Homo sapiens: one gene and its partners. The protein of the gene in region 3 purifies or fractionates together with the protein of the main gene of each other region. This does not show direct contact. Each region holds a gene or a part of one and is shown on either strand. Other genes may lie near its edges.

Region 1 (4,078 bases), on a different chromosome or scaffold from region 3:
GCTGGGAAGGAATTGAGGGACCCAGCAGGTGTTCCTTCTTGGTTTTTTTTTGTTTTTGTTTTTGAGGCAGAGTCTTGCTCTGTTGCCCATGCTAGAGTGCAGTGGCACCATTTTAGCTCACTGCAACCTCCACCTCCTGGGTTCAAGTGATTCTCCTGCCTCAGCCTCCCAAGTAGCTGGAATTACAGGCGCCTGCCACCATGCCTAGCTAATTTTTTGTATTTTTAGTAGAGACGAGGTTTCGCCATGTTGGCCAGGCTGGTCTCGAACTCCTGACCTCAGGTGATATTGCCCACCTCAGCCTCCCAAAGTGCTGGGATTACAGGCGTGAGCCACCGTGCCCGGCCACCAGCAGGTATTTCTTAGAAGCTGGGCTCTCCCAAGCCTGGCCTCCAGGTCAGCAGAGGGCTTTCTTCTGGCTCTCCCTAGAGCCGGTGTGGGATGACTAAGGTGCTGATGTGGCACATAAACTCCCTCATTCACCCGTATTCCCTGAGCACCTAACTGGGCTGGATGGTGCTGGGATCATGGCAGTGGCCAGGATAGCCCCAGGCCCTCCTTCATGGAGCTCACAGTCCAGTAGAATGGACACGGCCACCTCACAGCCACAGACAGTGACAGAGTGGTCAGAGATGGGGGAGCCCAGGGGCCCTGTGGAGACACCTGACCCCACCTGCGGATCAAGCAGGACTTCCTGGAGGAAGAGACACCTTAGCCTGGGGAGGATGTGGAGGAGCGAGCCAGGGGGAGGCAGAGAGTGAGTGTGCAGAGGGCAAAGCAGTGCAAAGAGGCTCTGCACCCCTTCCCAGTTCTTTCTCATGCGGTGCCAAGCACTGAGCTTGCAGTGTGTGGGGGAGATGAACATTAACTCAGTGGATACCCCAGGACAACCTCAGCTTGAGATGGGGTTTCAGTTTCAGTCTAGGCATCAGATGGGGACAAGAGGTAGCAGGGGGCTTCCAGGGGAGGGGAGGACAGCAAGAGCCAGAGAATGAGGTGGTGGGGTAGGCGGGGCCCTGTTGGCCGCAACATGCCCCTACTTCCCCAGAGTCTACAACACTGTGAACGGGAAGCAGAAGAAGTGCTACAAGGGCTCCCAGGGTGACGAAGGGTCCTTGCTGAAGGTGAGGAGTTGGAGACCCCTGTCTGTCTGCTGCCCTGATGGGCCACCTATTGTGACGGCCCACACCTGAGACCTGTGCCCTTGGTCCTTCCTCAGTGCACCGCGCTGCCCAGCACCTTCTCAGGCCTGGTTAAACAAGGATGCTTGCGAGAGGGTGGGGAGGGTGACCCCAGCTGTGTTTCCTTTATTTACAGAGCCCTTCCCCAAGTGGGGCGTCTAAGTGGGTTCCATTTTGAGTGGCAGCAGGGTATGGTGGGAAGAATCAGAGGCATGAACTCCCCTCCTGGTTTGCCCACACCAGCCACGGGTCACTCAGGACAAGGGGGGACCTTCTCAGAGCCTCTGGTCTAGGACAGTTATGGGTTCAGGTTCTGCCTCAGGCTGACTGTGTGACCTTGGGCAAGCATCATCTCTTGAAATGCACACAGACAGCTTGTCTCATAGACTTGTTCTCTGGAGGAGTTCAGTTTGCACATGTTCAGTGCTTAGCACAGGGCCTGGCTACTGTTGTTACTGCTGCGGTGGTTGTTAATTTCTTCACGTGTCGAATGGGAGCGGGAGCTCCTGCCCTGCCAGAGTCCCATGTGCTGTGCATGCAGCACGGGGGAGGGAGGGGCCCAGGCCTCATCATAAGGAAGAAGCAGGCAGCTGGAGTGACATGTGGGTCCCTTTCCTGGCAGGTCCATGTGGACCCCTCAGGCACCTTCCTGGCCACCAGCTGCTCTGACAAAAGCATCTCAGTGATTGACTTTTACTCGGGCGAGTGCATTGCCAAGATGTTTGGCCATTCAGGTGGGTGTGCCTCTCTGCTTGGGATGCCTCCCCACCCGCCCACACCCTCTGACTCCGAAGGCAAGTGCAGCCTCTCTGCTTTGTTTGCAGAAATTATTACCAGCATGAAGTTCACCTATGACTGTCATCACTTGATCACAGTATCTGGAGACAGGTGGGACATGGACCTTTGGGAGAGTTGTGGCTCAGATACCATGAGCACTGCACTCAGCCTGCCTGTGTAGAGAGCATTTCTAAACTGCCCAGTTTGGATTGTGGGAGTCTTGGTGTCACACCCAGCCCTGAGTTCAAATACCAGCTCTAAGCTGGGCATGATGGCTCACGCCTGTAACCCCAGCACTTTGGGACGCTGAGGCGGGTGGATCACTTGAGCTCAGGAGTTCGAGACCAGCCTGGGCAACATAGCAAAACCCTATCTCTACAAAAAATTAGCCGGGTGTGGTCATGTACACCTCTAGTCCCAGCTACTCAGGAGGGGGAAGATGGCTTGAACCTGGTAGGTAGAGGTTGCAGGGAGCACAGATCATGCCAGTGCATTCCAGCCTTGGTGACAGAGCAAGACCCCGTCTCAAAAAAAAAACAAAACACTAAAAAAACATATCCCAGCTCTGCCATTTATTTTCTTGTCACCTTGAGCAGGTTATTTCCCCTGAGCCTCAGTTTGCTCCCCTGTAAAAGACACCACCGTTTACATTTACCTTAAAAATGGTGTGATGAGGCCGGGCGCAGTGGCTCACGCCTGTGATCCCAGCACTTTGGGAGGCCTAGGTGGATGGATCATCTGAGGTCAGGAGTTCAAGACCAGCCTGGTCAACATGGAGAAACTGTGTCTCTACTAAAAATACAAAAATTAGCTGTGCGTGGTGGCAGGCGCCTGTAGTCCCAGCTACTTGGGAGGCTGAGGCATGAGAATGACCTGAACCTGGGAGGTAGAAGTTGCAGTGAGCTGAGATCGCGTCACTGCACCCTAGCCTGGGTGACAGAGCAAGACTCTCTCAAAAAAAAAAAAAAAAGAAAATTGTATGGTGAGAAATGAATGAGATGATATACATACATTCTTTAGCACATGGGTGGTACTCAAGGAAGTCCCTTTTGTCACTCCCTTTGATTTACCCCAGTTCTTCCCCACAGCCCCCTTCCTCAGGTCTTGAGGCCTCCAGAACAGGCCCTGGTTTGCTGGGATGCCCCAGACCTGGGCCCAGGGTGTGGATGTGGCAAGTCCAGCACCCCTGCACTAAGCGGATAGGGGTGTGTTTTCCAGGAGCATCTGGAGAATGGGGTCCAGGCTGTGGTGTGGGTGGCTTCAGGGTCAGCCACGGCAGCGGCTCCCATGCTTACTCTTCCTCTGCCTTGTGTGTCTCTCTTTGACCTCCGCAGCTGCGTGTTCATCTGGCACCTGGGCCCGGAGATCACCAACTGCATGAAGCAGCACTTGCTGGAGATTGACCACCGGCAGCAGCAGCAGCACACAAATGACAAGAAGCGGAGTGGCCACCCCAGGTCCTGGCAGCCCCTGCCTGTCCACCAGAGGGATGAGTCCCTGCCAGGGCCCCATGGAGTGATGCTGGGGACACAGTGGTGGCCAAGACAGCCCTAGGCCCTGCCCTTAGCACACTCACAGCTGAGTAGGGGAGACAGACTTTGAATATGCAGTTACAGTAATAGATACAAAAAGGTTTTGTGGATTTTTTTAATTTTCGTAAATAATAGAGACAGAGTCTTGCTGTGTTGCCCAGGCTTGTCTTGAACTCCTGGGCCCAAGTGATCCTCCCACCTTGGCCTCACAAAGTGCTGGGATCACAGGTGTGAGCCACTGCACCCGGCTATGAGAAGGGTATTAAAGTGGAAAAGCAAAGTGTTTGGCGAGCCTCTCAGCACTGTGATGGGGGATGCCCCAAGCGGCTGTGGGAACAGAGCAGTCCCTGACCGGCCAGCCAAGGGGAGGGGTGGGTAGACAGGGGATCTGAGGGGAGGGCTGCAGTGGGGCCACGTGTCCTCTTACTCCCACGTGAAAGCTGTAGCTTCACTTACTTCTTTGAATCTTCTAAATATATTTCTTTCAAGTCTTTATGTAGCAAAGCCAATTTTATTTGCAGAGAACTCATGTTCTGGTTTTTGATTTGAGGTTTTGGTTTGGGTATTGCTCATTTTGAGTGGGAGGTT
Region 2 (4,078 bases), on a different chromosome or scaffold from region 3:
CCTTGGGGAGAACCCTTTCATCTGAAAGACTTGTCAGGAGGGGAGAAGACAACAAGCAAGTCCTGTATAGCTGAGAACCCCCAGAAATTGCAGGCAGAATTTCTGCATATGGCATAAAGGTACCTGTTTGTAGGGAGGGGCCCAGAGCTTTCATCAGCCTCCTGAAAGAGGCCTTGGCCCAGAAAGGTTAAGGGCAAGGCTGAGATGGAATATGGGTAGAGGAGCTACTGAGGAAATGCCTGCCCCCCCCTCCGCCATCACTTCATTCCCACCCTGGGATATCAGCCCCAGGAATTTAGATAAGCCCAGCAAAGTCAGCCCATTCCTGTGAGCAGCTGAACCCATCTTCCTGCCCTTTCAGGTGGGCAAGTTCCTGAGCGCTGAGGAGTATCAGCAGAAGATCATCCCTGTGGTGGTCAAGATGTTCTCATCCACTGACCGGGCCATGCGCATCCGCCTCCTGCAGCAGGTGAGGCCTCTGTACCAGACTCTGTGGTGGTCCACCCAGACCCCAACCTGGTGGCTGGGGAGGCACCTGCCCTGGCTGCACAGGGACCCCAGAAACCCCACCCCTGAACATACACACAACTGAGGGACCCAATGAGGCCAGGCTCTCAGAAAGTTGGCCACATACAGGGCTCCTTGGCAGTTTTGGGAATGGCCAGCTTGCCCAGGCTGCAGCGCTCTAATGCCCCCTCCTCTCCTGGCTCAGTCACTCTGGCCCTCTAGAGTGGGGATACAGTCTTTCTCCTGCAACCCCAGGGCAGCTGGGAGCATCAGACAAGATGGATGGGATCTAGGAAGTACCAGTGGCTCCCAGTGCCATTCCCTCTGTGACCACCAAACACACCAGTCCTCCTCGTGGCACTGTGGGCAGGTGGGGAGGAGCAGGGAAGGGGTGATACCCTCATTTATAGAAGAGGCTCAGGCTGGGCGCAGTGGCTCATGCCTGTAATCCCAGCACTTTGGGAGGGCCGAGGCAGGCAGATCACCTGAGGTCAGGAGTTTAAGACCAGCCTGGCCAACTTGGCGAAACCCCGTCTCTACTAAAAATACAAAAATTAGCCAGGTGCGGTGGTGGGTGCCTGTAATCCCAGCTGCTCAGGAGGCTGAGGCAGGAGAATTGCTTGAACCTGGGAGGCAGAGGTTTCAGTGAGCTGAGATTGCGCCACTGCACTCCAGCCTCGGTGACAGAGCAAGACTCTGTCTCAGAAAAAAAAAAAAAAAAAAAATAGAAGAGGCTCTGAGAGGGTGGCCAGATGAGCCGGACTATGAGCCAGGCCTTCCTAGCGCCCTCCTGGCCTTTCCTCACTCCTCCACCTGGGCCTGAGGCCAAACACCTGGGTGGTGGCTCAGGAGGTTGACCTGGCTGGCCAGTGCCTGCTGGGTGGAAAAGCTAAGCCAGGAGCGGTTCCATGGCTATGGGGATAGAGTGGGAAGGGCTGACCATGTTGACGCATCCCAACCTGGGCCACAGATGGAGCAGTTCATCCAGTACCTTGACGAGCCAACAGTCAACACCCAGATCTTCCCCCACGTCGTACATGGCTTCCTGGACACCAACCCTGCCATCCGGGAGCAGACGGTCAAGGTGGGTGTGGCCAGGCCCAGAGTGGCTACCCCTGGTTTTCCAAGGCTTGGAGGGGCTCACCCTAGACACAGAGGCCTTGGCTTTGGCCCATGGGTCCAAGCAGACACTGTCCTTGCTGTGTGGGTTCAGGCCGTGGGTGCAGCTCGGCAGCTGGCGGGGGAGCACGTCCTCCATTCAGCAGACAACGAGCATCTGCCTGTTCCTGGCCCAAGCCCCATGCTGGGAGGCAGCATGCATGAGGTGCCCAGCCCCCTGCACTCATGGAGCTTCCTTTCCAGGGCACAGAGGGTGGGCTTGCCAGACAATACAACAGAATTAGAAAATATGTATTGTTGGCTGGTCACGGTGGCTCACGCCCATAATCCCTGCACTTTGGGAGGCTGAGGCAAGCGGATCACCTGAGGTCAGGAGTTCGAGACCAGCCTGACCAACATGGCGAAGCCCTGTCTCTACTAAAAAGTACAAAACCATCTGGGGATGGTGGCGCATGCCTGTAATCCCAGCTACTCGGGAGGCTGAGGCAGGAGACTCAATTGAACCTGGGAGGCAGAGGTTGCAGTGAGCCGAGATCATGCCGTTGCACTCCAGCATGGGCAACAAGAGGGAAACTCTGTTTCAAAAAAAGAAAGAAAATATGCATTGTTGGAAAGTGTGGGGAGAAGAGTTTGTGGTTTTAAAAACAGTGGTCAGGGGCTGGGCGCAGTGGCTTACGCCTGTGATCCCAGCACTTTGGTAGGCCGAGGTGGGAGGATCGCTTGAGCCCAGGAGTTGGAGACCAGCCTGGTCATCATGGCCAAACCCCATCTCTACAAAAAAATACAAAAGTTAGGCGCGTATGGTGATGCACGCCTATAGTCCCAGCTACTCGGGAGGCTGAGGCAGGTAGGTAGCTTGAGCCCAGGAGGTTGAGGCTGCATTGAGCTGTGATCGTGACACTGCATTCCAGCCTGGGCAACAGAGTGAGACCTCATCTCAAAATTTAAGAAATTATTTTAGGCCGGGCCTGGTGGCCCATGCCTGTAATCCCAGCACTTTGGGAGGCCGAGGCGGGTGGATCACCTGAGGCGATGGGAGTTTGAGACCAGCCTGGCCAACATGGTAAAACATGGTAAAACCCCATCTCTACTAAAAATACAAAAAATGGCTGGGCCCGGTTGCTCACACCTGTAATCCCAGACTTTGGGAGGCTGAGGTGGGCGGATCACAAGGGCAGGAGATCAAGACCATCCTGGCTAACATGGTGAAACCCCGTCTCTACTAAAAGTACAAAAACAATCTAGCCGGGCATGGTGGTGGGCGCCTGTGGTCCCAGCTACTTGGGAGGCTGAGGCAGGAGAATGGTGTGAACCTCGGAGATGGAGCTTGCAGTGAGCCGATATCGCGCCACTGCACTCCAGCCTGGGCAACAGAGCAAGACTCCGTCTCAAAAAAATAAAATAAAATAAAAATTAAAAAAATTAGCCAGGCATGGTGGTGGGCGCCTGTAATCCTAGCCACTCAGGAGGCTGAGGCAGGAGAATTGCTTGAACCCAGGAGGCAGAGGTTGCAGTGAGTAGAGATCACACCACTGCACTCCAGCCTGGGTGACAGAGTGAGACTCTATCTCAGAAACAAAAAAGATACGGAGACGAGAGTGGCTCTGAGGCTTGTGGCCTGAGCAACTGGAAGGTTAGGAGTTGCTATTTACTGAGATGACACAAGCATGTTGGGCCCCATCTTGGCTGTTTCTGTTAGGCAGCTGGATGGAGATGTCGAGTTGGCCACTGGTTATGCATGTGTGAAATTTAGGGAAGTCTGGGCTAGGGGTATGTGCCTGGGGGTTGTCAGCTCACAAGATGGCATTGAAAGCCATGAAATGGCTGAGATCACCTAGGGCAAGAGTGTTAGATAGAAAAGAGCCCTCTAGATTGGCTCCGGGTGTGTGAACGTTAGAGTCTCAGCAAAAGGAGCAGCCAGCCAGGTCAGAGGAGAACCAGGAGGGGGTGGTGTCCTGGAAGACCAGAGACCAAAGTTTCAGGGAGGGAAAACTCAGGGGTGTCAGAACTGCTGAGGGTCAAGTTTGGTGAGGATGGAGAACTGGCTGTTGAAATTAGTACCGGGGAGGGCATCAGTGACCTCACCCTGAGCCAGTTTGGCAGAGTGTGGGGCTGTTTGTGTGAGTCTAGGTGGAGTGCCATCAGGAGAGCAGAGCAGAGGAAATGGGAAACAGGAGTGCAGACAGACTTTGGAGGTTTTGCTGTAAAGGGGGACAGAAATGGGGTCCCTTTCTTCAACATGCTGGACAGGGCCAGGCCCAGGCTGGGAGGTGGCCTTGCAGGCTTTGATGGGTGTGCTCTGGGATGAGGGCTGCCAGGAGGCTGTTCCTGCACAAGGCCCTTTGCCCGCCACAGCCCACAGTTCCCACTCATTTCTGCCCCACAGTCCATGCTGCTCCTGGCCCCAAAGCTGAACGAGGCCAACCTCAATGTGGAGCTGATGAAGCACTTT
Region 3 (4,078 bases):
TTTTTTCTTTCAGTGTTTTTCAAATTTGAATCAGATGCTAATACTTCAAGTCTGGCCACATCAGGCCTGGTGTGTCTCTGCCTGGCAACACCTGGCTGGGGCTGGGAGGGGCAGGCATCTCACATGGGCTGTGCTTCCCATTGCCTGCTTCCCGCTGGCCACAGTCTGCACCTGCCCAGTCTGCTCAGCACCCATCTACTGCCATTACTGATCACTGCTTTTATCTGTCACAGTGTCTGGGTGTCAAACTACTGTGGCAATGCCATGTCCTTTTTTTTTTTCCTTTTTTTTTTTGAGATGGAGTCTCGCTCTGTTGCCCAGACTGGAGTGCAGTGGCGCAATCTCAGCTCACTGCAACCTCTGCCTCCCAGGTTAAAGCGATTCTCCTGCCTCAGCCTCCTGAGTAGCTAGGATTGCAGGCATGCACCAACAAGCCTAGCTAATTTTTGTATTTTTAGTAGAGACGAGGTTTCACCATGTTGGCCAGGCTGGTCTTGAACTCCTGACCTCGCGATCCTCCCGCCTCGGCCTCCCAAAGTGCTGGGATTACAGGCGTGAGCCACTGTGCCCGGCCATGTCCTTTTTTTAATATGTAGATAATTAATATTCAGCTGAATTTTCCTCCTAAGAATAAAGGTGCCTAAAGGAAGGAAATAGTCTTAACTAAACCAGAGGTCCATTAATACTGTGAAGTGCTTTTAAAATGATATGTGGGTGTATGTATTTTTCTTGGAGTGGGTTTATAGTTTCAGATTCTAAAGTGGGGTTTGGAGTGTGGTTTCATGTGAAACACCACTGGTTTTACATGAAGAGTTTGTTTGACATTTTGTACATAGTCTTCTGTGAGCTCCAAACCAAGTGTTAGAATGTTTATCCTTTGTTGCAGGCATCCTAATATTCTTAGACTGTATGGTTATTTCCATGATGCTACCAGAGTCTACCTAATTCTGGAATATGCACCACTTGGAACAGTTTATAGAGAACTTCAGAAACTTTCAAAGTTTGATGAGCAGAGAACTGCTACTGTAAGTGTTCATTTATTGTCCAGGCTAATTGTGTTTCCTTTATACCTGTCCTCCATAGCAATGTACCTTTCATCATAGTAGAGTGGGTTTTGTCTTGACGTAAGGATAGCTTAATATCAAATATTTGAAGTGGAAAAATCAAAATAGCTTAGTTGTACCATATGTACAGATAAAGTCTAGAACCAGGTAGAATGTTGTATCTGCTTTTGTGCCTAGTTTGCACAGCTGTTTTCTATGGAAATGTATATAATGTATATAGATAGTCACCCTCATTTTCTTTAATAGATGTTTTATTTTAGAATAATTTTTATTTTATTTTATTTTTTTTAAAGGGACAGGGTCTTGTTATGTTGCCCAGGCTGGACTCAAGTGATTCTCCACCTCAGCCTCCCGAGTAGCTGGGACTACAGGTGCACACCATTGTACCTGGCTAGGATAGTTTTAGATTTACAGAAATTGTGAAGGCAGTACAGAGAGTTCCCATATACCCCACACTGAATTTCCTACTAATTCTCCTACTAACATCTTGCATTAATATGGCACATTTGTCACATTCAATGAACCAATATTGATATATAACTATTAACTCAAGTCCACATTTTATTCAGATTTTCTTAGTTTTTCTCATGATTAAATTGGGCTTATGGGTTTTTGAGAGGGAGATCAGAGGTAAAGTGCATTCTTATCACATACCAGGGATGTAAACTCTTATGACTTTTAACTGTGGATGTCAGCTTGATCTTCTGACTCAGAGAGTGTTTGTCTGGTTTCTCCACTGTAAAGTTACTATTTTTTCCCCTTTCCGTGCTGTATTTCTTCAAAGGAAGTTACTATGAATAGCCCACACTTAAGGAGTAGAGAGTGGATGGAGTATTGCCATAAATTATCTGGAATTCTGTGCCAGAGATAAGGCTGTTCTCCCTTATTTATTTAATCATTTATTTATTTAAAGATGTAGACTCCTGGGTATTTATTTTATCTCTTGAGCTATAATGCAATACTTTATTTTGTGGTTCAGATCATTGCAACTTTGGCCACTGGGAACTTTTTTTCTTTCTTTTTTTTTTTTTTTCTTTTTGAGACGGAGTCTCACTCTGTCGCCCAGGCTGGAGTGCAGTGGCGCTATCTTGGCTCACTGCAACCTCAGCCTCCCAGGTTGAAGCGATTCTTCTGCCTCAGCCTCCCAAGTAGCTGGAAGTACAGGCACCCACCACCACACCTGGCTAATTTTTGTATTTTTAGTAGAGACGGGGTTTCACCATATTGGCCAGGCTGGTCTTGAACTCCTGACCTTGTGATCCACCCACCTCAGCCTCCCAAAGTGCTGGGATTACAGGCATGAGCCACCGTGCCCGGCCTGCTCTTTTTGTTTTACCAGGTTCCTGGGAAAATCATTGCAGTTTTGTCTTGCGTGTGTGTGGTTTTTTTTTGGTTTGTTTTTACACTTCCTTTTTTTTTTTTTCTTTTTTTGAGATGGAATCTCACTCTGTCGCCCAGGCTGGAGTGCAGTGGCATAATCTTGGCTCACTGCAGCCTTCACCTCCTGGGTTCAAGCGATTCTCCTGCCTCAGCCTCCTGAGTAGCTAGGATTAACAGGCATGCACCACCACACCCGGCTCATTTTTGTATTTTTAGTAGAGATGGGGTTTTGCCATGTTGGCCAGGCTGGTCTCTAACCCCTGACCTCAGGTAATCTGCCCGCCTCAGCCTCCCAAAGTGCTAGGATTACAGGTGTGAGCCACCACGCCTGGCCTTGTACTTCCTTACTTTCTGATACAAGATGCTCAGGCCTCATCGTGTATATTTCCTGCTCCAGTCCTAGAATCGAACCACTTCTCCAAGGAGCCCTGTTTCCTTTTCTTGGAGAATGTTATTAGAAACCAAGCTCTGGGCACTTGGTGTACTCATTGCTACTATGGTGTCACTACTTTTAGGCTTTCAGCTGACACAGCAAGGGAATATATGTGGATAGTAATCTGTGTATAGATTTATCCATCTATCTCTTCATTAAGCATACCATGAATTCATACTGATGTCTTCAACTTGAATCCATTACCACGTTTCATTCTAACTTCCTCCTGTTTACCTGTAAACTCCCACTCCAAAAGTGTGAAACCTGGATTTCACCGCCCACCATCCTTTTACTTATTCAATTCCAATATACATGTATAATGGTATCAGAATTGTTAACCAGCTGCCACGTGGGAACCAACTTTATCAATTAGAGTGCTTATGTGCACTTCCTTTGGCCTTTGTCTTATAGATTCCACTCATTTCCAAAGCTGCTTGGATCAACACTTTACCCTCATGCCCTTTAGTAAGGTGGTTTCCTACATTTGTAATGCAATGAGATTTTTTTGTCACAATCTGCATGCCCAGGATGGAATCATTTACATTTTCATATCCTGAGATTGATTTTTGTGTGTTTGCTGTAAAGTTCTATGAATTTCGACAAATACACAATGCCATGTATCCACCATTATGATATAGAGAATAGTTTCGCTGCTCTTAAGAAAAAAAAAATCCTGTGTCTCAACTACTCATCCCTTCCAACCCTTCCATCTCTGGCAACCACTGATCTGTTTACTGTCTCTATTGCCTTTTCCAGAATATCATGTAATTGGAATCATAACAGTATGTAGCTTTTTTAGGTGGGCTTCTTCCACTTAGCAATATGCATTGAAGATTCATCTGTGTATTTTTGGAGGCATGAGAGCTTGTTCATTTCTGTTTATCACAAAATCATATTCCATTATTTCATTATATGGAAGTACCTCAGTTTATTCGTCTACTGAAGGGTATCTTGGCTGCTTCTGGTTTTTGGCAGTTATCATGTTTTGGCTGTCAACATTTGCATGCAGGTTTTTGCGAAACAAGTCTTCAAATTAGTTGGGCACATATATAGGAGTGCTATTGCCAGCTCATACGGTAAGACTATATTTTGCTTTGTGAGGAACTGTCAGTCTTCCAAAGTGATTTTTACATTATATTTTACATTGCATTACAAATGTAGGAAATCACCTTACTAAAGGGCATGAGGGTAAAGTGTTGAT
Region 4 (4,078 bases), on a different chromosome or scaffold from region 3:
AGGTCTGCAGCCACCCCAGCTCATACCTCTCTGCCTCCCCGCTCTCAAGGAGGGTCTGCCGCATGTGATGAAAGTGTCTACTCTCAGGGAAAGCTCAGCCATGGCTTCCCCACTGCCCCGGGAGATGGAGGAGGAGCTGGTGCCTACTGGCTCTGAGCCAGGTACCAATGGGTGCAGGGTGGAGCCAGGTGGCTGGGAGGGGGGTGGGAAGGACAGAGGCTGCCCCCTCTTTCTGTCTTGGGGGGTGGTTGAGTGATGATTCTGTTGAGATAGGGAAGGAGTACCAAGGCAGTACAGGATGAGTTTGAAAGGTTCTCAGCTTCTCTTGAGACTCTTCAGAACTGTTTGGGATCATAAATCTCCAACAGGTGTAAGAGCAGACAGGGACCTTTGAGATGATATGGATCAAGCTGCATGCTTTGCAGAGGGGAAAACTGAGGCCCACAGGGAAAAATGGAGTGTACAAGTGGGAGTTTGAACCCAGACCTCCTGGCTCCTTGTGTAGACTCTTTTCTTCTATTTAGCCAAATGTGTAGGAGGTACGGGATTCCATCAGGAGGACTGTGGACGAGGGTACTTCCAAGGTCATTTAGCTTTATATAGAAGGTAGATTTCTGGTCCTGTTTTTTTTTTTCTTCCCATAGCAGATTTACTTTTGTTTGACTTGGGTCAATAGTAAGTTTGCATTCCCAGTCACACACCAGATGACAGTGGGGAGGTGGCCTGGGAGTGTGCTGTGGGTGGGGGAGGAGGCAGCCTGGAGGCAGGATAGAGAAGCTCAGCTGAGATTGAAAGTTTACTATGGATGATAGAGAAGAGTGTCACATAAGGTGAAAAAACTAGATTGGGAATATGGGGGGGCTGACTGCTTGATAGGGACAGGCAGGCATTTGTTTATTGGCTCATTTGTTCATTCATTCTTTTGTTTAATTATAACTTATGCTAGGGGCAAAATACAGTACAGGAAGAAGTAAGGTGCCAGGTGGGTCCTTAAATAGCTTCAGCTTAAAAGGGGAATTGGCTAAAACATTTTGGGAGTTTGAAGAAGGGAGAAGATGCTTTGGGGATGTGTGTAGAAAATCAAGGAAGGCTTCATGGAAGAGGTGGCATATGACTTGTGCCTAGAAAGATGTGAATATTCTTAAATCGGAGGGTGGGAGATGAGGTGGAACAGGAAACAAAGAAGTTCTGCTTCCTGGTTCTTCTGACAGCTCCCCCACCAACCCTTTCCTTTTGGTAGGTGACACTCGGGCCAAACCCCCTGTCAAGCCCAAACCCCGGGCCCTGCCTGCCAAGCCAGCCCTGCCTGCCAAACCCAGCCTGCTGGTGCCTGTTGGGCCTCGGCCTCCCCGGGGTCCCCTGGCTGAGTTGCCTTCTGCCAGGAAGATGAACATGCTGGCAGGACCCCAGCCCTATGGTGGCAGCAAGCGCCCCCTTCCCTTTGCACCAAGGCCTGCGGTTGAGGCCTCCACTGGAGGAGAAGCCACCCAAGAGACTGGGAAAGAGGAGGCTGGGAAAGAGGAGCCACCCCCTTTGACACCCCCAGCTCGATGTGCAGCCCCAGGGGGTGTACGGAAGGCCCCTGCCCCTTTCCGCCCAGCCTCAGAGCGCTTCGCGGCCACCACGGTGGAAGAGATCCTGGCCAAGATGGAGCAGCCTCGGAAGGAGGTCCTTGCCAGCCCCGACCGCCTGTGGGGTTCCCGCCTCACCTTTAACCACGATGGCAGCTCGCGATATGGCCCCAGGACCTATGGCACGACCACTGCTCCCAGGGATGAGGATGGCAGCACCCTCTTCAGGGGATGGTCCCAGGAGGGGCCAGTAAAGTCTCCAGCAGAGTGCCGGGAAGAGCACAGCAAGACCCCTGAGGAGAGGTGAAGGGTGGGAGGTTGTATATTTTGTGGCAGCCTGGAGGTCAGGTGGGGTGGGATTGGGTGGGGGCTGGGGACCAAGTGCATGGCCCCATATAGGGTTGTGACTTTTACCTGTAGGTTGGTTGTGTGCTGTGAGTACAGGCAGATCCCGATCTAGGTCACAAATCATTCCCCAGCAGATGGTGTTATCATTACTGTATGCTTTTAAAGTTGTAGTTTTCTTTACAGAGTTGATGCAGGTTTATGTTAGAGAGTTCAAATGTACAGTATAGAAGTTTAATAGACAATAGACTTTTTTTTTTTTTTTTTTTGAGATGGTGTTTTGCTCTTGTCACCCAGGCTGGAGTGCAGTGGTGCGATCTCGGCTCACTGCAACCTCTGCCTCCCAGGTTCAAGTGATTCTCCTTCCTCAGCCTCCTGAGTAGCTGGGATTACAGGCGTGGGCCACCACGCCCAGCTAATTTTTTTGTATTTTTAGTAGAGTTGGGGTTTCACCCTGTTGGCCAGGCTGGTCTTGAACTCCTGACCTCAGGTGATCTGCCTGCTTCGGCCTCCCAAAGTGCTGAGATTACAGGCATGAGCCACCACGCCCGGCCAAGAAGTTTAGTTTCTATATACTGAGAGCTGGGCACCAAACTTTGCCTCGTTGGCATCCTGTTTGTTCAAGGGAGTATTAGATCCATTGTAGAGATGAGGAAACTGAGGCTCAAAAATGACTCCATAGTCTCGGCAAGTTAAGAGGCAGAGACAGATGTTTGTTTGATTCCAAATCCTCTGCTCTTAAGTGCCAGCTCTTACAGTGGTCAGAGCAGTGTGCCAGTCCTGGGGTGGGGCTGCGTGTGTCAGGATGAGTAGGGCACAGTCTCTGCCTGTGAGGTGGAATCTGATGGGAGAGGTAAGAGAGGAACACATCTTTTTTTTTTTTTTTTTTTTTGAGACGGAGTCTCGCTCTGTCATCCAGGCTGGAGTGCAGTGGCGCAATCTCGGCTCACTGCAAGCTCCACCTCCTGGGTTCACGCCATTCTCCTGTCTCAGCCTCCCGAGTAGCTGGGACTACAGGCGCCTGCCACCACACCCGGATAATTTTTTTGTATTTTTAGTAGAGATGGGGTTTCACTGTGTTAGCCAGGATGGTCTCGATCTCCTGACCTCGTGATCTGCCTGCCTCGGCCTCCCAAAGTGCTGGGATTACAGGCGTGAGCCACTGCGCCCTGCGAGAGGAACACATCTTGATGCCAGGCCAGCTAGTGTCTGCACAGAGATTTTGGCTGGTTGGAGATATTTGCATATGATACGCTTCTCCAGAGTTGCCACTAGTGTAAAGCAAGGCTGGCCAGGAGGTGCTTCTTGGGGTGCTGGGCACGGGACTTTGGAGGAAGAGGCTGAGGCATCTCAGGAGCCATCAGCTGCACAGAGGCTGTCCTTAGTGCTGGGAGAGCCAGCTTGAGGTATGGCTGGCTCCTTGGGCCTTTAACAGCTCTGCTGGGCTCAGAGGCTCCCTTTCTCTTCCTACTGCTATGAAGGCAAGAGCTGGTGTGGTCTGGGCTAAGCGGGAAGCTGAGGGTCCCTGCCCTGCCCTGCCCTCTGGCCTTGCCCTTCTCTCACCTGAAAGTGTCTGGAGCCTTGGCCCCAGAGCTAGTCCTTTGCCTGTCCCAGACCAGGGTGCTGTGAGGTCACACTCTTGCCCAGGCTGGGTTCCACCCGCCATCTTCCTTCTCTCCCTCACTCCAAGTAGGGCTTAAGAACAACTTCAACCCTGGAAAATCACTCTTTCCTCTTCCCCTCCCCCACTGCAATTCTTCAAGAAGTATTGGCAGGGCAGCAGGACCAGCTGCACTCTTCCTGGCTAGAGGAGAACTTTAACTCCTTATGGGTTAAAGGAAAGAGGAGTTATCTTTTTAGGAGCTGTTGAGAGGTCTGGGCATCCAGGATGCTTTTCCTAAAGTAGCTGGGGAATTTAACCCTTCATGCTCAGGTAGGGAATAAGCACTGTTTTCTGGGGCACTTGCCGAATGGAAAATGGACAGATTCTGTGTCCCTAATAGTTGCAGGCAGGGCTCAAGAGTAAATGGCTAGGAGGGTTTAACCTTTGGGTGCTGTTAAAGTTGCACTGGGAGACTCTCCCACATTTTCCATTCTGTGACAGACTCTAACATTCCGTGCTTCCATTTCCTGTCCTCGTCCCTCACAGGAGCCTTCCTTCC
Region 5 (3,500 bases), on a different chromosome or scaffold from region 3:
CCAGTCCAGAGTCAGATAGTTTTTCACTTTTTGGTTTTTACATTTTGCTGATCACCTTAACCTACGCTGCTTTTATTATATAAACTACAAACTTTATACTTTGCTTTGGTGTTCTGAATTCAGGCACTTATTTTTCTGATACAGAAATTGAAATGTAAACTTCAGCTGTGTTTCACAGCCTGAAGCTGATTTGGGTGTGAGGGGCTTGTTCTCCCTTCTAATCTAATGGGTTGACAGTCTATTAAAAGAGGGGCAAATACAGAGCACAGTGAGAAGTAGAAGATGACAGCAGAGTCACAGCAAGGGCCACGCAACCTTCTTGTGAAATCATTGCTTTTAATCTTTTAATCTATCCATCTTTAAAAAGACCCTAAAGGAGGGGTCTTTTTGTCCAGGAAGAACAATAAAAGGCTGTGGAAATACATCCAGAATATACAACTAAATCAAAAACCAAAAGCAGCACTGAATGGGCAAGAGAAAGATATTTGCGGAGGATAAAATGGGGAAAACACATCAAAATACTAAGGTTAAAATTTCTCTAATTAGGCAGATATAAAATGACACTGATGAGGGTATATGATAGCCATACTCCCAACAACCAAAGTTATAAAGCAATACGTGCTCCCCAAATAACAAGGAAAAGAATTCTTTCTATTCCTTTTGTTCCCCGCCCCATCCCTTGAATATTAAGCATGAACACTGTACATGCATAGATCACTTTTACAAGGCCAACACGATGAGATCAACACAAAGTCTCATTTTCCCAGAAATGAAGTCTGGTCGTGGGCTCCTTACCAGTGATAGTATTGTAGTGGTAGGAGGCATGTGTAAAAGCCTGGAGAAGGTAAGCCTTATTCTTGAATCTGTAGTTGATTTTCTTTTCAAAATTTTCAAACCCCGATATAAGGTGATTCAGTGTTTTATCTGCATCTGGATGATCAAACATACATCTTGGTGGAATCTTCAAACAACCATATTCCGAGTCTTTCAATACAGAAGAGCGTGAACTGGCCACAGAAGCAGCAGCACAGCTCACTGAAAGGTTCTTTTGTTGGCTGTTGAAATTCTCCCGAGTAGGGCACAGGGCCTTTTCCCGATCAGTCCTTTTAATTACCGGGAGCACCTTCAGCCCCAGTGAACAGAGGAAAAGCTGAGCAGCCCTCTCCCCACAGCTGGTTAAATAGCAGCCCAGCAGGGCTTCCACACAGTCCGCTATGCTTTTGTCAGCAATACACTGCTCAGTGTGCAAGTCGTAAGAAATGGACTGCTTTCCCGTGTCAACACCACAGTTTTCTTCTGATGGATTCCAGAACCCCACCACAAAGTCATCTTCTTCAACAGCTTTGCTAGGATCCAGATAGCACATTGCATCCCAAGAGCTGTAGTCAAAATCCTCAAAATCTGATGAAAATGGCATACTACCTAAGGAGGATTTTTTGGGCATTTTCCATTCATATGCAGAATCAGTGGTTGAAAAAGGAGAAAGAGAGATTTTCTTTACAAAAGCTCCTGACCCCATTAACATATTATCTATAAATCTGATATGTTCCTGATCATACTCCAGGAAATCATCTTCATAGTCAGCCTCTTCCTTCGGAGCCCTCCACATCAGGCTCTCCTCCTCCTCATCCTCCTCCTCGTAATCCTCATCCAGTTTGCCATTCGCCAGCATGCAGTCTTTTGTCTGAAACGAGGGGGAATGGGGAAGGAGGGGAAACATAGCTGCTGTTTTTAAAAGGGTTTGAAACTCAATAAAAGCAAGGGTTATGGATAATTTCAAATGACAACCACAAATACTAAAAGGCAACTTTAAAATCATGGCCATTTGTTTTCAATTAACATAAAATAAGTTATTTAATCATATAAACAAAGTAAAACATGTTCTTTGAATGTTCGTTTTCTAAGTTATAAAATGACCTTTATCCAGTATGAAGCTTTAAGTTAAGGACTTTGAACATGGATATAAAGTTAAAATTAATGTCCACAATGCAAAACTTCAACTAAGTCGTCTAACTCTGGTAGGACACACAATGAAAGCACTCATATGCTGATCACACAGATCTTCAATTTTGCTGACAAAATTTGAAAATGTGGTAATTTGATTTTCAAAAAGATTTTCAAACTAATAAAACGAAATTCCAGATGTAGAAAAGCATTACCTTTGCAATTAAGAATATAATATAAAAACAGATAAAATCATTTTTTAAAATGTACAATAGGATTTTATAATAAAGCTTTTTGTCCCTATTTCCACTTCAAAGTATACTTGCCACAAAAAAACTACACTGCTTTCCTTAAAAAATAAAAGTGATCACTGCACTAAGCTATGAATTTGAGAAGTTACGTTTTTTCCCTCCACTCTGAACTACGGTAATCAGGGGAACAGATTATAGCATAACTGACAAAAATGGAAGAAAATTTAGACTAACATGAAACACAACAATCCAATTTCTGTCAAAAGATCTTTGCTAATTCCAATTTCTTTGGCAAAAGCTTATTTGTGAGTGACAACCTTAATAATGGGCTAGATTTCAGTAATGATGTAACTTCTTTGCAATCCTAGAAAGATGCCAAATTTCTGTTATGCAAGTTTTTAAAAAACCAAAAAACTTGTGAAGGGGGAAGACGAAGGGTGTGCATCAATGTTGATTGTAACAACTTTCCAGTGTTCTGACAAAAAAAAGTTGCAACCTTCAAGCATTTTTTAAATACTACAAATATTTTAAACTAGACTCAAGATATAAACACTACATTTGTCTGAAAAGAAATAGCAGTAAGCCAAGCCATATCTCTAACTATTTATCTTTTCATTTTTTTAATTAAGAAAGAAACACCTTTTCAAGAATAAGGAACACCAAAAGCAACTGTAGCGGCAGACCTCAAGGAACATTTCCTGCTAACAATCTTAGACTTTCCAAGGCAACATGAAGATGTTTTTGATTGGTCCTTAAGAAAAAGAGGGCCAAACTGCGATTTTTAAAAAATCAGACAATATTTTTTTTTTATTGAAAAAAACCTTCTGTATCTTTAGAAAGGTGCCACCATAAGCCAAAAGTGGCAGAGCACAAAAATCACAAAGGGCTGACTTTTATCACAAACTGTGTGATCCTGGGCAAAGCCTTTTAGTGCCTCTGGGTTTCAGATGCTTCATCTACAAAAGAGTGGGGTTCTGTCTCATAAAATGTTTTTCAAGAGCACTTCAAGCCTTTTAAGAAAAAACAGCCACATGAAATCCTTTTCTATATCATTCAAGTCAACTTTGATACTCTCGTCTATTAAGAGGCGTTTTAGCATGCAAAGGTTTCCACTTAAGCCCATTTGCTGAAGGGCCAGAGCAAGGTAGGGAGAATGGCAATGCAACCAGCCAAAACCACAGTGTATCTTTTCAATATAATGCAAGGGCCTATATTTCAATAAAAGTAACTTACTAAATAAAAATCTGAACAGTATTTCTAATGAATTCCAATAACCAAAGTGCCATCAGAAACATTAAGAAAAAT
Region 6 (4,078 bases), on a different chromosome or scaffold from region 3:
ACGTTTATTTGTCATGAGCTTCCCCCCACCATGGCAAACCAATTTCAGCTCAGTATATAATAGAATTCTGAAATGCAATGATCTTCCTGGAGAATGGGGGATTATAGTTTGTGAAAAGCCTCATAAGTGGTTTTGATAGTTCCCTTCTATTGACAATTTTTTATCAGGATTGTTTTTGAATAAGTAGTGAACTGAAGTCTGTACCTCCATCCTAGAGACTCGTGCAAAGAAGTCTTAATTCTTCTTTCTCATGAAAACTCATCAGTGGAGAACACTTGTCAGAGTGGTCTGCATGTCTTCTCACCACCTCCCCCATCCTTGTATCTTTTCACCTCTAGGAAAATATCCCTGGATCCTTTATCCATTCCTCTTGACCATCCTGGTTGCTCTCATGGGAACATTATCCAGTTTCTCTACCTATATCTCAAAGTGTGGTTGTTTATGTTAGGAGGAAGGAGAAGAGGGAGGGGGTCGAGGTCAAGAGGTGACCCATGACCACATGCCTGGGTCTGAAGTGGGGCGTATGAAGCTTCCTTGCTCAGGTCACAATGCTCATATCACCTTTAACATAACTTTGTTACTTGTGTGTACACTCTCTTTATTTCCTCAGGGCTTAGTTTCAGGAAGGGACTATTATCATCCTTGCTTTAAAATTAAACTATAAACAAAATTCCTTCCATAGTTAGCTTGGCCTACGTGCAGAGATAGGCAGAGGCCGTTAACCTACAAGATGTCACCATGGGCAGGGGGCAGGGTGCGGGGAGCAGAATGGAGCCACTCATGTTCAGCCTCCTTTTGTCTGTTATAATTTCCCCATTTTCAAAGCCAGTGATGTTGCATGTCTCTCACCTGTCTTCTGTATTCTCTCTGTCTCTCACCACAACCAGAAAAGGGTCTCTGCTTTTAAGGACCCATGTCATTAGACAGAGCCCACCTGGATAATCCAGGCTGAACTCTCCTACCTATGGGTCCTTAATCTAATCACACCTGCAAAGTTGCTTTGTTACATAAGGTAACATATTACAGGTTCCAGGGATTAGGATGTGGACGTCTTTGACTTGGAGGAGCAAGATTGATTTTAGACCCTCATCACTGGTGGGATTGGATTTCTGATGTAGCCCTTCCTTGTCCAGGACTGGGCAGGCAGGTGTGAATCTGTATAAGGAAGGCCTCAAGTTACTGTTCCTGGGCTCAACCAGCTACATAGCAGATTTGTACCACCCAGGTACACAGCCTGCATAGCAGATTTGCTGTCTACAGCCATTCTCACCTTTTCTCTTTTCAGGAGCATTTGCAATTATACGGTCATTGCTTTCTTTTTGGAGCCTCCCGTGCAGTTTTAATCTACTTTCAGAACTGGAGAGCACATCACATTTTGGTCAATAGCCTAGACATACAGTTGCATAACCCTTAACTTACCAGTGCTCATTATTTGCATTATTTCATTTTCTGTTCAAGTACTTTGAAAAGCCAAACAACTTTAAATACTACATAAAGTATGCATGCCTCTTAATATTGTTGGGATTCATCTCATTGTTATTTCTGTTACTCAAACCAGAAATCAGCTCCTCTTTCTAGATTGCAAACTAATAATAGTAGCAGAATAATTAATAGTACTATAGAGTAATAGCTACAGTTTGTTGATGCCGGCCAGGAGCCAGGCAGTGTTCCAGGTGTGTGATCTCATTAGATCCTTGCAGACATGATAGTGATGGAATTGTTACTTCCATTTTTTATAGGGCAACTGAACTCAGGTGATATTAAGCTGTTTGCTCAAGCTCATGCAGATCTAGGATTTAAACTCTAGTTTGTTTGACTCCAAAGTGCTCACTCTTCCCGAATGCAGATTCCAGTTGTTAATGTTAGATGAGATGGCACCTTAGTGCCGGTATAGATTCCACCACTGGTCATTCCAGAGGTGTGTTTTGAAGCAGAAGCCAATTAGTACTTTGCCTAAATGGGAATAAACTTGGGCCCAGCCTTTAGTACCATACGGCCCCTCCCCGTGGACTTAAGAAGCCTCTCTGTGTTTCAGCCACACACAGCACCTTGACTTGCATGAGCAGGGAGTTCCAGTGCGAGGACGGGGAGGCCTGCATTGTGCTCTCGGAGCGCTGCGACGGCTTCCTGGACTGCTCGGACGAGAGCGATGAAAAGGCCTGCAGTGGTGAGTGCCGGTCCACGGGCTGGGCTGGGCTGGGCTGGGCTGGGAGGCTCGCTTACCCCAGGGCCCCTCCTGTGTAGACCTTGAGCTAGGACCCTTTTGAACTGTTGCTCAATCTAAGGATAAAACAGATTTGTGCCTAGTTTTGGAGCCCCAAGTGAGGTGAGCCTTGGCCAGACTCTGATACAACATGCAGCTGTCTCCTCCCTGTTAGTGAAATGCTAGTCTTGGATTTTTTTTTTTTTATGGACTTCCCACCTCATGCCCATACACCATGGCTCTCACAGTCTCAATCTGCTGGTGGGATTAACTCAGTTCTTATCTCTGGAGTGTCTAGTAATGGACCCTATGACATGGTCCTTGGACTTGTAGCATTCTCTATGGAGAAATAGGCTTAAATTGTCATAGGCAGGAGGAAGATGAAATTCGAGGGAAAATATCACGACCGGAAAAGTAGGAGACCCTAGGAGGGATTGTATAGGGAGGTTTCAACTACATTTTCTGAGATTTCTTTTCAGATAATGATTATGGCCTCCTGATAATCTAGATCATGGTAGTTCTGTTTAAAAGCAGGAGTCCTTTGAAATCTAAGGATTTGTAAGATGTAACTTTTTTTTTTTTGTATTTTTAGTAGAGACGGGGTTTAGCCACATTGCCCAGGCCAGTCTCGAACTCCTGAGCTCAGGCAATTTGCCCGCCTCGGCCTCCCAAAGTGCTAGGATTACAGGCGTGAGCCACCACGCCCAGCCAAGATGTAACTTTGTTTGTCTTTTTCTCCTTTATCTCTCTAGATGAGTTGACTGTGTACAAAGTACAGAATCTTCAGTGGACAGCTGACTTCTCTGGGGATGTGACTTTGACCTGGATGAGGCCCAAAAAAATGCCCTCTGCTTCTTGTGTATATAATGTCTACTACAGGTAGGTCCCATCTTTGTCATGGGAGATGAAAATGATGTCTTCATTGCCCCAGGATGTTCTGTAAACTCTCTAGTGGCATGCACCATGCTATTAACGGAGTCAGACATCTCAGCCCCCCATGCTGCTCCAGTGTGACAATATCTTTATTTTTTTTTGGGCCAGGGTGGTTGGAGAGAGCATATGGAAGACTCTGGAGACCCACAGCAATAAGACAAACACTGTATTAAAAGTCTTGAAACCAGATACCACGTATCAGGTTAAAGTACAGGTTCAGTGTCTCAGCAAGGCACACAACACCAATGACTTTGTGACCCTGAGGACCCCAGAGGGATGTAAGTGTTTCAGTTAATTTTTATGGCATGGGTAAGACCTCAGGTCGGGGTTTGTGAGGGTCTTTCTGAGTATTCTCAGGAATGTGGGAACATATGTGTGCCTCACATGTACAGAAGTATGGTGGCTAAGCTTTATAGTCTTGCCAGAGTTGTCAAACATCTGTTCTTCTTACTGCATCAGAGACTGTTCTTGTACCTTAAGTTAATTTAAGATTCTCTCCACCATTGCCCTCTTGCATTTTTTGTCTAGTTTCTACCTCTACGTTCCTCCTCTAGATATTTCCTAGTACTTGGTACTTAGGAGGAGGTCATCGTCATTAAAATATGAGGCATATCAGCAATTTTGTGGCTAAGTTTTTTTCTTTTTGGAGACAAGGTCTCACTCTGACACCCACACTGGAGTGCAGTGGAGGCGCAATCACTGCTCACCACCTCAGTCTTCCCAGGCTCAGGTGGTCCTCCCGCCTCAGCCTCTCGCATAGCTGAGACTATAGGTGTGTGCCACCATGCTCAGCTAGCTTTTTGTATTTTTGTACAGAAAGGGTTTTGCCGTGTTACCTAGGCTGGTCTTGAGCTACTGAGCTCAAGCAATCCACCTACTTCAGCCTCCCAAAATGTTGGGATTACAGGTGTGAGCCACTGCACCTGGCTTTGTGGCTAAGTT
Region 7 (4,078 bases), on a different chromosome or scaffold from region 3:
ATTCCCCTCTCCATACAGTCCTCCTTCTCCATGGAGGCAGAAGAGGGTCTGGGACACAGGCTGCCGTGGCCCTGGAATGTAAGAGACGGCAGTGGGGGGCGAGTGCGTCAGACCTATGTCCCCCTCTCTGTCCTCATCTGGAAGAAGCTACATGGGAGGTGAGAGATGGCAGCTGTCCTCGTTCAGCCACCTCTGTCCCCCAGGGGAGTATCTAGGTGGCCAGAACCACCTCTGGGCTTCAGCCCATGCTGGTTAAGTCTGGGCTCCCTTGGGGAGTGTCTGAATGTGCCCCTCACAGTCTCACGTTTGTGTGGTGGACGATATGCACACGCCTGCCCATCCTGGGTGGAATCCTCATGTGCTTGAGAGTCTAACACACTTCCAATAATTCATGAGAAAGACAGAATCATAAAGGAACTTCTCACATACTTAGAACTGAAGAATCATAAAAATACTACTTAGCAAAATGTGTAGAATGTAGTTAAAGTTGATTGTATACAGGGAAATGTAGCCTTTAAAGACAGACTGGAAAGAAAGGCTGCAATTAATGAGTTGAGCTTCCAACTGAAGGACAAAAGAAGCCAGGCCTGGTGACTTATGCCTGTCATCCCAGCACTTTGGGAGGCGGAGGCGGGCAGATCACCTGAGGTTGGAAGTTCAAGACCAGCCTGACCAACATGGCAAAATCCCGTCTCTACTAAAAATACAAAAATTAGCTGGGCATGGTGGTGGGCACCTGTAATCCCAGCTACCAGGGAGGCTGAGGCAGGAGAATCACTTGAACCCAGGAGGCAGGGGTTGCAGTGAGCCGAGATCGTGCCACTGCACTCTAGCCTGGGAGACAAAGCAAGACTCCGTCTCAAAAAAAAAAAAAAAAAAGAATAAACCCGCAGAAAGTAGAAAGGTGATGATTCAGATTGAAGCAGAGACCAACAGACACCCACAGGCAGGAGGCAGAAGTGCTCAGTGGCTATTTGAAGAAGCTCCGTAATAGAGAGATGACCCTCAGGAAAACGCTTAAAACTCCTTCCTAGCTACCCAGAGACTGGACTTGTGAGGAGTTAGGACGCCACCTTTAGGAAGGGTTTCCCTCAGCTTTGTGGTGTAGCCGGCAGGAGAAAACCGATCTAAGAACTGTCTTCTGTCCTCTGTTTACCCAGGACTTGTTCTTTAAGTACACCTGGAATAACTTTTTGCACTTCCAAGTGGAACTATGCATAGCCGCTATTCTCTCCCACGCTGCCCGTGAGGAGAGGACAGAAGCCAGCGGATCCGAGAGCAGGGTGGAGCCTCCGCATGAGAACGGGAACCGGAGCCTGGAGACTCCCCAGCCGGCCGCCAGCCTCCCTGACAACACAATGGTGACCCACGTGAGTCCAAGAAGCATCCATCTTATCAGCGCCAACTGCGCCCCACTCAGACCGTGTCCATGTCAGCGCTGACGTGTGCCGGACCTCACTGTGCAGCTGACACGGGGGCAGGGCTTTGAAAAGGGTCCCCAGGTGTCTGGTCAGACGCTCGTAGACAGTGGGGCTTGAGTGGGTCTTGCAGATCTCATTCCTACCTGCCTTCAGCAGGGGTACTGGTGCCTTCCACGTGCAGGCCTGGCAAGGGTTAGCACTGGATGAGATGAGTTCAGTCTGGCCTCCAGCTGGAGGCCCAGGGAATAAATGCCCAGGGAGCCAGCAGTGTCAGTGATGGGAGCCACACGGTGGGGAGGGGATGCTGAGGGACATGCAGGCCAACCAGGGACTGTCACCCGGATAGCAAGGCCACAGGTATATCGTAGTGTGAGGTGGAGCCCAGGAAAAACATCTCAGGTACAAGAAGTGATCTGTGTCAGGGCCTGGAGGTGAGAGAAAGTGCTGAGGGCAGACAGCCCTAGTCGTTCTTCCGGACACAGAGAAAGAGGGCAGGAGAGTGGCCAAAGTGGAGGGCAATGGAGAGACGGGGAGAAGGCCCAGGGGAAGACAGGGGTCAGGGGGCAATTCCAGGAGTTGGAGGAGAAGGGAGAGGGTCCTTTTCTCGGGCTTCATCTTTAGGGCGCTCAGCAGTATGAGCCCCGAACCGCACCCTCCTCTGGTGTTTGGTGAGGACCGCGGAGGCTGGGGCTGTGCGTGCGCAGCAGTCAGGGCCTGCAAAGTCCACACAGACGTGGCCGCCAGCCAGCCCTGCCCAGTCCAGGGATGGGTGGAGGGGTGCGTGCCGCCTTCAGACCCTGACTCACGCTGTCCCCCTGCCCCGCCCCCCAGCTGTTCCAGAAGTGCTGCCTGGTGCAGAGGATCCTGGAGGCCTGGGAAGCCAACGACCACACGCAGTAAGAGCCGCTCGGACGTGGAGGGACCCAGCCTGGCCAGTCAGGGATGCAGAGACGCACCTCACCCAAGCCCTGGTGACGCTGCGTGCAGGACTGCAGGATCGGGTGGAGTGTAGGGTGTGCGACGTGGCTCCACGTTCTGGGGCTGCTGTGCAAGGGGCCCTTCTACTGGGCGGACAGCTGCAAATGCTACTTGGGGAGGGGACACAGGGAGCCGACAGGAAGCGGTCCCGTCCCCACCAGGCACCTGCTCTGGCCCCCGCCCAGCCTGGCTTTGCCCTCTTGTGGGTCCGCTGTCCGTTCCTGATCTTCCCCAGGAACTCGGGCCCTCCGTCAGCACTCGCACACAGGGACGCGTTATTTTGGTCTTTCCATCTTCTGCTTAATGGGTGCTCCCTCTGGTCAGGACACATGTCCCGCTTATTGTCGTGGGCCCAGAGCCATCCCCACCCGTTTGCTGTCCTGCTGGGAACTGTCTGGCTCTGGGCGATATGAGGAGGGACTCCAGGGAGCTGGGAGGGGTCTGAGTGCAGCTGTGGGGAAGCAGAGGCCGAGCTGGGCTGTACAGCATGGAGGTCCCGCCCAACCCTCCCCTTGGGGTGCTGAGCCTGAGCTTGGTAGCTGGCAGCATGGGCTCACCTCCTGCGCCACTGCTGCCACCAGCGGGACTTAGGCCACGCCACGGCCTTTCTGCCTCCATTTCCCTGTCTGTAAAATGGAGTGAGAGCAGTGTCTGTTTCCTCATCTGTCTCAGTGGCACTTTTGGTAGTGAGGTTGGGGTGAGCCTGCTGCACGTGGCAGGTGCTACTCAAACAGAAGTGTCCTGGAGGAGGGCAGGGGGCGCGGACACTGGGCAGGGGCCGGGCATTTGCTCTGGAGGTGAACCTGGAGGAGGGCAGGGGGCGCGGACGCTGGGCAGGGGCCGGGCATTTGCTCTGGAGGTGAACCTGGAGGAGGGCCGGGGGCATGGATGCTGGGCAGGGGCCGGGCACTTGCCCTGGAGGTGAACCTGGAGGAGGGCTGGGGGCGCGGACGCTGGGCAGGGGCCGGGCATTTGCTCTGGAGGTGAACCTGGAGGAGGGCTGGGGGCATGGATGCTGGGCAGGGGCCGGGCACTTGCCCTGGAGGTGAACCTGGAGGAGGGCTGGGGGTGCGGACGCTGGGCAGGGGCCGGGCATTTGCTCTGGAGGTGAACCTGGAGGAGGGCTGGGGGCGCGGACGCTGGGCAGGGGCCGGGCATTTGCTCTGGAGGTGAACCTGGAGGAGGGCCGGGGGCATGGATGCTGGGCAGGGGCCGGGCATTTGCTCTGGAGGTGAACCTGGAGGAGGGCCGGGGGCATGGATGCTGGGCAGGGGCCGGGCATTTGCTCTGGAGGTGAACCTGGAGGAGGGCCGGGGGCGCGGACGCTGGGCAGGGGCCAGGCATTTGCCCTGGAGGTGAACCTGGAGGAGGGCCGGGGGCATGGATGCTGGGCAGGGGCCGGGCATTTGCCCTGGAGGTGAACCTGGAGGAGGGCCGGGGGCATGGATGCTGGGCAGGGGCCGGGCATTTGCTCTGGAGGTGAACCTGGAGGAGGGCCGGGGGCGCAGACGCTGGGCAGGGGCCGGGCATTTGCTCTGGAGGTGAACCTGGAGGAGGGCCGGGGGCATGGATGCTGGGCAGGGGCCGGGCATTTGCTCTGGAGGTGAACCTGGAGGAGGGCCGGGGGCGCGGACGCTGGGCAGGGGCCGGGCATTTGCCCTGGAGGTGAACCTGGAGGA

What was found.
Region 1: the proteins of AURKA (region 3) and WDR62 purify together in Homo sapiens (affinity purification with mass spectrometry; 5 studies listed by BioGRID and IntAct, with this or other methods). This does not show direct contact.
Region 2: the proteins of AURKA (region 3) and SCYL1 purify together in Homo sapiens (affinity purification with mass spectrometry; 4 studies listed by BioGRID and IntAct, with this or other methods). This does not show direct contact.
Region 4: the proteins of AURKA (region 3) and TNKS1BP1 purify together in Homo sapiens (affinity purification with mass spectrometry; 4 studies listed by BioGRID and IntAct, with this or other methods). This does not show direct contact.
Region 5: the proteins of AURKA (region 3) and DICER1 purify together in Homo sapiens (affinity purification with mass spectrometry; 6 studies listed by BioGRID and IntAct, with this or other methods). This does not show direct contact.
Region 6: the proteins of AURKA (region 3) and SORL1 purify together in Homo sapiens (affinity purification with mass spectrometry; 4 studies listed by BioGRID and IntAct, with this or other methods). This does not show direct contact.
Region 7: the proteins of AURKA (region 3) and PPP6R2 purify together in Homo sapiens (affinity purification with mass spectrometry; 6 studies listed by BioGRID and IntAct, with this or other methods). This does not show direct contact.

The regions. Positions count from the first base shown.
Region 1 is NC_000019.10:36,089,397-36,093,474, forward strand, and holds part of WDR62 (WD repeat-containing protein 62), read left to right. Parts: intron 1-1,048; coding exon 1,049-1,124; intron 1,125-1,803; coding exon 1,804-1,915; intron 1,916-2,005; coding exon 2,006-2,069; intron 2,070-3,292; coding exon 3,293-3,415; intron 3,416-4,078. UniProt on the Homo sapiens protein: Required for cerebral cortical development. Plays a role in neuronal proliferation and migration.
Region 2 is NC_000011.10:65,531,215-65,535,292, forward strand, and holds part of SCYL1 (N-terminal kinase-like protein), read left to right. Parts: intron 1-361; coding exon 362-469; intron 470-1,477; coding exon 1,478-1,591; intron 1,592-4,012; coding exon 4,013-4,078. UniProt on the Homo sapiens protein: Regulates COPI-mediated retrograde protein traffic at the interface between the Golgi apparatus and the endoplasmic reticulum. Involved in the maintenance of the Golgi apparatus morphology.
Region 3 is NC_000020.11:56,378,380-56,382,457, reverse strand, and holds part of AURKA (aurora kinase A), read left to right. Parts: intron 1-886; coding exon 887-1,025; intron 1,026-4,078. UniProt on the Homo sapiens protein: Mitotic serine/threonine kinase that contributes to the regulation of cell cycle progression.
Region 4 is NC_000011.10:57,317,875-57,321,952, reverse strand, and holds part of TNKS1BP1 (182 kDa tankyrase-1-binding protein), read left to right. Parts: intron 1-2; 5' UTR 3-67; coding exon 68-161; intron 162-1,240; coding exon 1,241-1,874; intron 1,875-4,065; coding exon 4,066-4,078.
Region 5 is NC_000014.9:95,095,030-95,098,529, forward strand, and holds part of DICER1 (endoribonuclease Dicer), read right to left. Parts: intron 1,685-3,500; coding exon 796-1,684; coding exon of another isoform or gene 743-795; exon of another isoform or gene 317-742; intron 1-316. UniProt on the Homo sapiens protein: Double-stranded RNA (dsRNA) endoribonuclease playing a central role in short dsRNA-mediated post-transcriptional gene silencing.
Region 6 is NC_000011.10:121,602,158-121,606,235, forward strand, and holds part of SORL1 (sortilin-related receptor preproprotein), read left to right. Parts: intron 1-2,035; coding exon 2,036-2,167; intron 2,168-2,955; coding exon 2,956-3,082; intron 3,083-3,244; coding exon 3,245-3,414; intron 3,415-4,078. UniProt on the Homo sapiens protein: Sorting receptor that directs several proteins to their correct location within the cell. Along with AP-1 complex, involved Golgi apparatus - endosome sorting.
Region 7 is NC_000022.11:50,430,013-50,434,090, forward strand, and holds part of PPP6R2 (serine/threonine-protein phosphatase 6 regulatory subunit 2), read left to right. Parts: intron 1-1,160; coding exon 1,161-1,370; intron 1,371-2,252; coding exon 2,253-2,317; intron 2,318-4,078. UniProt on the Homo sapiens protein: Regulatory subunit of protein phosphatase 6 (PP6). May function as a scaffolding PP6 subunit. Involved in the PP6-mediated dephosphorylation of NFKBIE opposing its degradation in response to TNF-alpha.